2 separate regions of the Homo sapiens genome follow, and region 1 is reported to be linked to region 2. Evidence: microRNA targets listed by miRTarBase, many of them from high-throughput screens and not tested one by one. Region 2 holds a microRNA gene; the other region holds the end of a gene's coding sequence.
Evidence for each region. The annotated mature microRNA hsa-miR-4659a-5p reads CUGCCAUGUCUAAGAAGAAAAC and lies in region 2 at 2,633-2,654, opposite strand. An mRNA with a match to its seed (bases 2 to 7 or 8) in the 3' UTR can be bound and repressed. Matches are read on the target gene's strand: a 7mer-m8 pairs with bases 2 to 8, a 7mer-A1 pairs with bases 2 to 7 and ends in A, and an 8mer does both.

Region 1: miRTarBase lists EBF1 as a target of hsa-miR-4659a-5p. Seed matches in the 3' UTR shown: 7mer-A1 at 2,152-2,158.

What each region holds. Positions count from the first base shown.
Region 1 is chr5:158,695,442-158,699,441 of GRCh38, reverse strand. It overlaps EBF1 (EBF transcription factor 1), which reads left to right. Exons shown (of 16, transcript NM_024007.5): 16 at 300-3,522. The coding sequence ends at 331. Among named protein-coding and RNA genes, the nearest start is that of LINC02227, 290 kb to the right of the region's middle. RefSeq lists an enhancer at 1,017-1,671.
Region 2 is chr8:6,743,679-6,747,830 of GRCh38, reverse strand. MIR4659A (microRNA 4659a) reads right to left here and starts at 2,667; the gene lies at 2,587-2,667. AGPAT5 (1-acylglycerol-3-phosphate O-acyltransferase 5) reads right to left here. Exons shown (of 8, transcript NM_018361.5): 6 at 3-161. MIR4659B (microRNA 4659b) reads left to right here and starts at 2,591; the gene lies at 2,591-2,663. RefSeq lists enhancers at 429-723, 1,325-1,374, 2,987-3,066, 3,097-3,376 and a silencer at 1,515-1,564.

The DNA.
Region 1 (4,000 bases), not on the chromosome of region 2:
TATTCAAACTATGCAACTTTCCAGTTATGCCTTAAAATTGAAATCAGATTTGGAGAGATGTTTAGGATATTTTGTTCTGTTAAAGACACATACCCATGCTGATTTATTATAATTTTTAATAAAGCACATGTATATTTTATAACGAAAATTCATTCCAGAGAAGATGAGAGCAAATTTGTGGCTAATAGTCGAACAACATAGTTGTGTGTGGGTGTTTTTTTTTTTTTAGTCTTCATTATTTTTCTCAGTGAGAAGTTTGAACGCAAAGAAACCATTGACTTCTGTCTTTTCTTTCATAGCGATATCTGGCATGATTGTTCCTCCTATGTGAAAGAATTGCCTTGAAGAATTGTATTAATGAAGAGGTTGGATTCTGCTACAGAGAGTAATCTGATACAAGTCCCAGAGTGGAACTTTTAACTCAGGCCTTTTTAAGAGGAATCACAATAACTGCAGATTTTTAAACAAACAAAATCACCGACCTTGCAAATACTGAAATTGGAAGAGGGATCTGCAAGTGCAGGGTGTTGGTTAAAGTTGTACCTCCCAAGTATTTGGGGGATATATTTATTCTGTATTGACAAAAGCAAATCCACTTTTTCTTTTTCTTTTTTTTTTTTAAGCTTAATTCTGCAATCATTTGTCTTTTATAAACCGTAAAGCTCTATACAAGGGACACTATAAATAAGACTCCATGTTTTAATTTATGATGTTTTTAAAGCTGTGTAAAGGAAGAATGAAGTGGTGATATTTACAAAAAAGTAAAAAAAAAAAAAAAGAAAAAAAGGAAAAAAAAAAAAGCTTGTATGGGACAGAATAGGAATGCCAGTTAGATTTTTTAGAAAAACTAAGGGTCGGCTTTTGCGCCTTAAAGCATATCAAATGGTAGTTAGCTCAGACAGTGCATTTTCAATATCTAACTTAACATGCCACCCCTTAGCAGTGCAAGCTTATTTATCTCTTTTGTATTGTTGTCTTAAGCAACTGTGTAAATAAATGCAGCCTGGAAAGTTAAAACGCGATGTAAGTGATCACATTTTTCCCTCTACTCGAAAATCCAGTGCCTCTAGACAGATTGTTAAAACTGCATATTTAAATCTGATCTCATTCTCTCCTTTTACTTAAGTCAGTTTCTTCTGAAGCCGATGGCCTCTCGAGAGCTTGGTGGCACACATACTGTGTGAGAATCTCCTTTGAGACTTCATGGAACAGGGTCCAGGCACAGAATTCCACACTCTGCCCTCCAGTTAACAAGCCAAAACCTCACGTACGCTCCCCCATTTGCAAGTTTAAAGTTTACTCGTCCTAAATGCAGACTTCATACCTATCTTCCAAAAGTTGATAAAAGCAACGTGGCAGGTATTTTCGATTTTCCCATTCCAGATACTGCCTCTATCAGTCGACCCTTACCATTTGTAACATAATAGATTGAAACAACAGGTTAAGTGCTTTGGAATTAAGAGTTAAAGGGAACCGGGGGTGGAGAAAGGAAAAGAAGGTTGAGACCTCCAAAACATAGTTTTCTGTTCTATGGGAATTTTTGCTCTCATTATCTGGGAAGTGTTCTTAAAAATAAGAATTAATAGCAAAGATGCAGCAAAGCTCTGAGGATGCATTTGCCTGATATTTTTTTCTTTGCTCTTGTGTTTTTGTATGTAGTTATAAATACTGTAGATTTTTTTTTTGTGATTTTTTGCCAAAGTTGTTGTTCTATTTATACATTTTAATGTCTTAAGACATTTTTTCAATATCACAAAAAGATTTTACTGCGTATTTTGCAAAGAAAAAAAGCTCACTACCTTTAGCTTGCACATACTTGCAAAGTTAATTAAAAGGCTTTTTGTTTTAAAGGGGATTTTGTAAAATATCCATATAAATAATGTATTTATCTTTCGAATTTGTACATTGCTTTTCCCTTCTTCCTCTTCCTTCCACCCCCAATTTATTTTATTGTGTATGTTTGCTACGTGAAAAGTGCGTATTTGTTTGGTCACCTACACTTGTATTAGCTGTTTCAATGTGATTTTTAAACATTTCATTTATAGTTATTTTTAGTATTGTTATAAACCATGCTTCAGTTTTTTTAATTTCCACCCAAAAGTCATTGTCTATTTTTGTATTATTTGTAAGTTAAGAAGTTTTTTCCAATATATGGCAAAAAAAAAAAAATAGTAGCATATTATTCTTGTAGTATTTAGTTCAGTAGATTTAAAAAAAAATGTATCCTTTGCTTTGGAAGCTTACAAAACAACCCTAATGCTGTTTTACTCTATTAATATGCATGGAATCTCTCCCTTTGGAGTGACGCATTTTGTGCATTAAATTCTAGGGAGAAACTTCATAGAAATCAATGAACATACTTTCTTTCTTAAGTCTGCTTGTATATTTCCTCTGTCTTTCACATAAATATAAACCAGCAGATTGGATGCCTTAACAATGCAAATCATATTCATTTCACTTGTACATTGTAACTGTGCACCAGAACTGTCAGTCATCACTAACATTCTAAGAAAAAAGAAAAAGAAAAAAAGAAAAAAAAAAAAACAAAGAAATCGAAAAGCACAAAAGAACTGTTTTGTTACCTTAAGACAATGTAACTTTTTCTAGTAGAGCAAGAAATCATTTACAACAATGCTGCAACTGTGCATGCCCCCATATGGATTTTGCAATGGTTTTCACTAGGCTGTCAAGAGTGCGATTTTTATGGGTTGGGGTGGGTGGGGGAGGGGAGTTGTGGGAGGGTAGGGGAGGGAGGAAAGCTGTTTTTCATGGTGAGAAATAATAATGATGACTAATAATAATAAAAAAAACTGGAAAATGTAAGCAAGGTGGACGCATTGCTTCTCGGTACTCAGAAAGGTTATCTGAATTTGCGTGGTAAGCGCTGGCCTGAAGATGTACACAAGTTAAAGCCATATTTTATCTGGTGAGCCCCTTAACTGTTTCTGAAGGAATGAACGGTCAGCCGGGAAGGTGTCCGGCTTAGACCTTGACAACAGACACTACCCATCTGTCAGCCATGTGCAGTGGTTAGAACTCTTCTTGAAAGTCCAAAGAGCCTTTAAAATGTGTATAATTTGTGTTTTGTTGCTTCTATTTCTATTGATTAGATGAAAAGACATTCTGGCCCTCTGATCCTCTTTCTTCTCCACAAAAGTTTTACAAATAAAAGATGTTCCCCTAAATACAGAATATGGCTTTAAGAAGAAAATGAAATGAAGAATTAAATTAAGATTTCAGTGTTGGGGGAAAAAATACAGCTTCTGGATGACTGGATTGCATAACATTGCCCTGGCCTCACATTGTACTAGGATGCAGCTTAAATGAAGTCATCTCTAAATCTACTAACCTTTCACCTTCTTATCAAAACTTTTTGAATAGACACACACTGTACAGTTCAATTGTTAGAGAACCTAACTACTGTAGAGATTGTTAAATTTTTTTTTTTTTTTTGCAAAAATTCAAGCTGTAAAAACTTTTCAACTTTCACAATATTTAATTAAAGTTACTTCCTGTCTGTGATGGCAGCTCCTAGTTGTGTATTCATTTCTCTATTTCAGATGAGCCAAAGTCCAACATAATGTAAAAGGTCTGTGTTTGCAATGACTCAGATCAGTCTTGATACCCAGTGAAAAGGAATTAGGGTAGTGCTGGGACACCCTCTTTCTTATGTAGGTCCTTGGGGATTTGCTAATCTGGGATGCAAATTGAACACGCGCAGCGTACTGCTGCCCTCTGCCGGCGGTAGCTGGATGTGCACATGCCCACACCGGTCCATATAGGAGCCAAGAGCCCCCAGCAACTTCAACAGCCAAGCCCTGAGATCCTCCTGCGTGATTGAACTGTGAATCCAGGAAGTGGCCATTCTAGAACCCCTATCCTTCGTGCTACAAATCTGAACCAAGCTTTTCACACACAGCTGCTAATTAATCCCAGCGAGCCTTCTGGTCAACTAATTATGTGCCCTGGCTCATTGATGAGGAGGCATGTGTGAACTGAG
Region 2 (4,152 bases):
ACCCGTCATGGTCGGTGACTCTCTTCGCTGCCCTCCATCGTCTTTCCCTTCATAAACCACCGTAACATCATAAATTGCATCTAAATAATTCTTCATGCAATCAAAAGCAACGTGAGTTGCCTTTATTCGTGGTGTTAGCACATGTTTTAATACTGCAAGGCCTAGAAGTCAATTCAGTGCCGTCATTAATTAGTTACAAAACACCTCCACAATATACTGTTTAACATCTAAATTATTTTTAAATTCCCTCAAACACACACAACAGAATCTATTAATTCCACAACCTCATATATTTAGGGCTCTAAGTTTAGAAAGCACTCTCACTTGCCTTTTTCTGTTTAAATCAATATTCATTTGCTATATATTGATCAAATATCTACATGTACAAGTCACCGTGTTGGAAGTTTATGGCCTAGCGGAAACGCTTCAATCTAGTAGACCCCGGCAAGGGTAAATATTAGTGCCCTCGCTTCTGGCCACTGAACAAAGGTGATAGCATCTTGCCCATGGTGACTCAAGATTTCCTAGAAATACAGTCACACAGCACATGGCCTCCTGTTTCTGGCTTCTTTCGCTCAGCATGGATCTGAGGTTCATCTGTGTGGCTGCAGGACTCAGTGCTTCATTCCTTTTTATGGCTGAATAGTTAGTATTCCACTGTGTGAACAGATCACATTTTGTTTACCTATTAATTGCTTCATGGACATTTGGGTTGCATCCATACTTTGGCTATTATGAATAATGCTGCTATGAACATTCATAGGAATTGCATATGAAGGCTGCAGGTGAACAAGCTTTTGTATGAACATACGATTTCAATCCTCTTGGGTATATCTGACATATTTTTAAAAGGTTCTTTAGCTGGGGGACTACTGCAATTATCCAGAACAAATCCCATTCATTAGGTTCCTACTAGGGTTAAGGATTTGTTCTTCTCTCCTTCCTATTACCTCCCTTTTCCTTGATTAAAATATTTACTGACAATTTAACAGAAAACAGTAGCTCTCAATAAGTGACATGAAAATAGACTATAAAAAACTAGTCTAGATTTTCTACTGGCCTCTCTGGAGGGAAAGTAGCTGAGTAAGGAAGAACAGCTATTACATGGTGGGACTGTCCCACACAAGAGGTTTTAAAATGCAGGGTGGTGTGGGAAAGACAAAGATTCCCACAAGCACGTATCTGACTTTAGTCCCCAGGGCAGGGGCAGTTAAATTGATTCACAAACTTGCAACAAAAATCTCAATCGCACACCAAGCTGGGAAGCATTTATTTGTCAGTTAAACTAGTTAACACTTCCTTCTTTGCTACTGGAGCTCATCCAACTTTATGAAGTCCAAAGTTTCAAAATATCACTCTGTGGTGTTCACTAAAACAACTAATTACTGGCATCCAAGTAAGTTAGTAAGGAAATAAAGACAGAAAGCTAGTATTTTTAAAACATAAAAGGAAATGAATTATCATGAATGTTTTAAAAAAATAGCTTTGTGACTAGGCTTCTGCTCCAGAACGCGTAGATAAAGCCACACCATAACTAGAAGGGGAATGGCCAAGAGGAAGACATGCAGAGCATGCCTGCGTGCACCCACCTGCCATGCAAAGATAAGTGGAAGAGCAGGAGGCAGGGAAACAAAGAGAACACGGAGCCGGGCGCGGTGGCACGTGTATGTCTGTAGTCCTAACTACTCAGGAGGACTGCTTTAGCCTGGAAGTTGGGGAGTGGGGGAGAGAAGGAAGAGAGGGAGGGAGAAGAATGCAGAAAGAAAAGAGAGAGAGGAGAGAAAGCAAGCAAGCAAGAGAGAACGAGTGAGGGAAGGAAGAAAGGGAGGGAGGGAAAGAAAAGAAGGAAGGGAGAGAGAGCGAAAGAAAGAAGGAAGAAAGAAGGGGGAGAGAGAACATGAGTTCAAATTGGGCATACTGAGGCTGAAGGAACAAAACATTCTAGAAGTAGTTGGAAATATGGTCTGTAAAATGGCAAGAATCAACCGAAGCTAAGCATGTGGAAACCATGGGAATGGATAACTGAAGTAATGGCAGTGGCTGAGAATAATAAAGGGCAGAAGATGAAAAGGCAAGAAATACAGACTCCGGAAACATCCACATTAAAAAAAAAAAGGTAAAAATAATAACAGGGAATACGACAACCCAGGAAATAAAAAAAGGGGGGAAACCAATGTAATACAAAAACAAAGGGAAGAGATGTTTAAAGGAAGAGGAGGTGATATTTATCTTCAACAAGAAAAATTATACTCCATTGTTTATTTCTACAATAAAGTTAAAATTATTTCCTGGTTATAAAGGTATAAATAATGTCAAAAGTTATGTGAAAGTTAACAAATATGACAACTGACACAAATGATACGATGCTTTGGAGGTCAGTGGTTAAGTGAGAAGTGGGATTCATTTCTGGAGAGTGGATGGAGTCAAACACAAGAAAGCAAGGGGCCCAGACTTCTCTTTGCACAGCTATAGACTTAGTTATTTCAGAATTGGAGTACATTTGCAAGCTGGGAGAAACCCCTGCAGAGAAGTAAGGCAGATGACTGAGGCAACGATGGAGACAGGGTAGACGGAATCAAGAGCTTAGAAACTGTTGACGTTGCCATGTCTAAGAAGAAAATTTTTCTCCAAAGTTTTCTTCTTAGACATGGCAGCTTCAGCAGTTTCTTCCAAAGAAATCCAAGTCAAGAGACTCCACATTAAGATTTTGAAATCAAAAGGGATATTGGGTGCACTCTTTCCAGAGAAATATAACTTTCTGAAAGCAAAAAATCCTTGAATGTGAAGAGAACAAAAATCCGTGAAAACCATGAGGTAGTCAAAAGGAGAAAAATAAAAGAACTGCTCCACACAGACTTGGCTCGGCTGAAATGAAATGGCCTGGCTTGGCTGCAGAAGGCAGTCAGCATTGATCTTACGATGTTCTCCACTGCTAAGGAAGGGAGAAAACAAACAGGGTTGCCAAGGGCTGAGGAAAGGCAGGGCAGGAACAGAACAGCCCAGCACTGGGATGGGCAGACCCCGGGGCTGGGGCAGACAAGAGCTGCAGAAGGCCCTGCAAGCTGCAGAAGGGCCAAGGAAAGAGAGATTAGAAATCAGCCAAAAACACAGGTTTAGAGCGAGTGAGGAGGAGGGAGAACCAGAGTCAGCTATATGGTGTGGGCGAGCCAGTGCCATTTCCAGATGAACTTCAAGGTGGTAAAAGCAGAGCACTGGACCCAGCACAGGACCTCGAACCAAGCACAGGATCCCAGACCAAGCACAGGACCCCGAACCAAGCACAGGACCCCGTACAGGAGAACAAGATCCCCCCAAGCCTCCACAAAGGACTGCAGCCCTGCCAACACCTTGATTTCAGCTGAGTAAGACCCATTTCAGACTTCTCAAATGTAAGAGAAGAAATCTGTGGTGTTTTAAGCCACCAAGTTTGTGGCCCTGCCTGAGAGCAGCCACAGGGAGCAAACACACCTTCTTAAGAGCGAGAGTGCCGTTACCACACAAAGCTGAGCACTAGCTTTCTTGTTTGCTATGCTTTCTCAGAAGTTGGCTTCAAAGTATTCATTTAATTTCTACTTCTTTGATTATGAGAAAGAATAAACATTTGTTCAAGTGTGTGGGTCATTTGTATCTCTTGAATTTCTTATTCATGCCCTTTTCCCATTTTTCTAGTTTATGTCTTTTCTAATTATGAAGCACTTTTGTAATATTAAGTATATTAATATCCTATATTATAAAATATTATTAGCTTGCCATTTGCCAACTAAATTTGTTCATATGATGTTTGAGACATAAAAATAATTTTTATTCAGTTAAGTCTACAAAGAAAAAAATTGCTTTGTAGCTTATTCCCTTTGTTCTCCTGTTTTGAAAGAACTCTCAAATCTCTACAATCGCCAGTGTTATTCACCCTATGAATAACATGGAAATTCTAGGTATCTGGTTTGCCATTATAGACACATCATTAAATTTCTGTTTTCTTTTAAGAGAGTTCAAAAAGCTTAAGTATGTCACCTTCGCTAGCAACTATGGTTTTAACCATGGCAATTAAAAAAAAAAAACCACCATAGGGGCTTACTTTAATGGGTCCAGGTGGCAGATTAAGATACATTTAATTCCACATCCCTTATAACCATTAGAAAGCCAAATACCTAA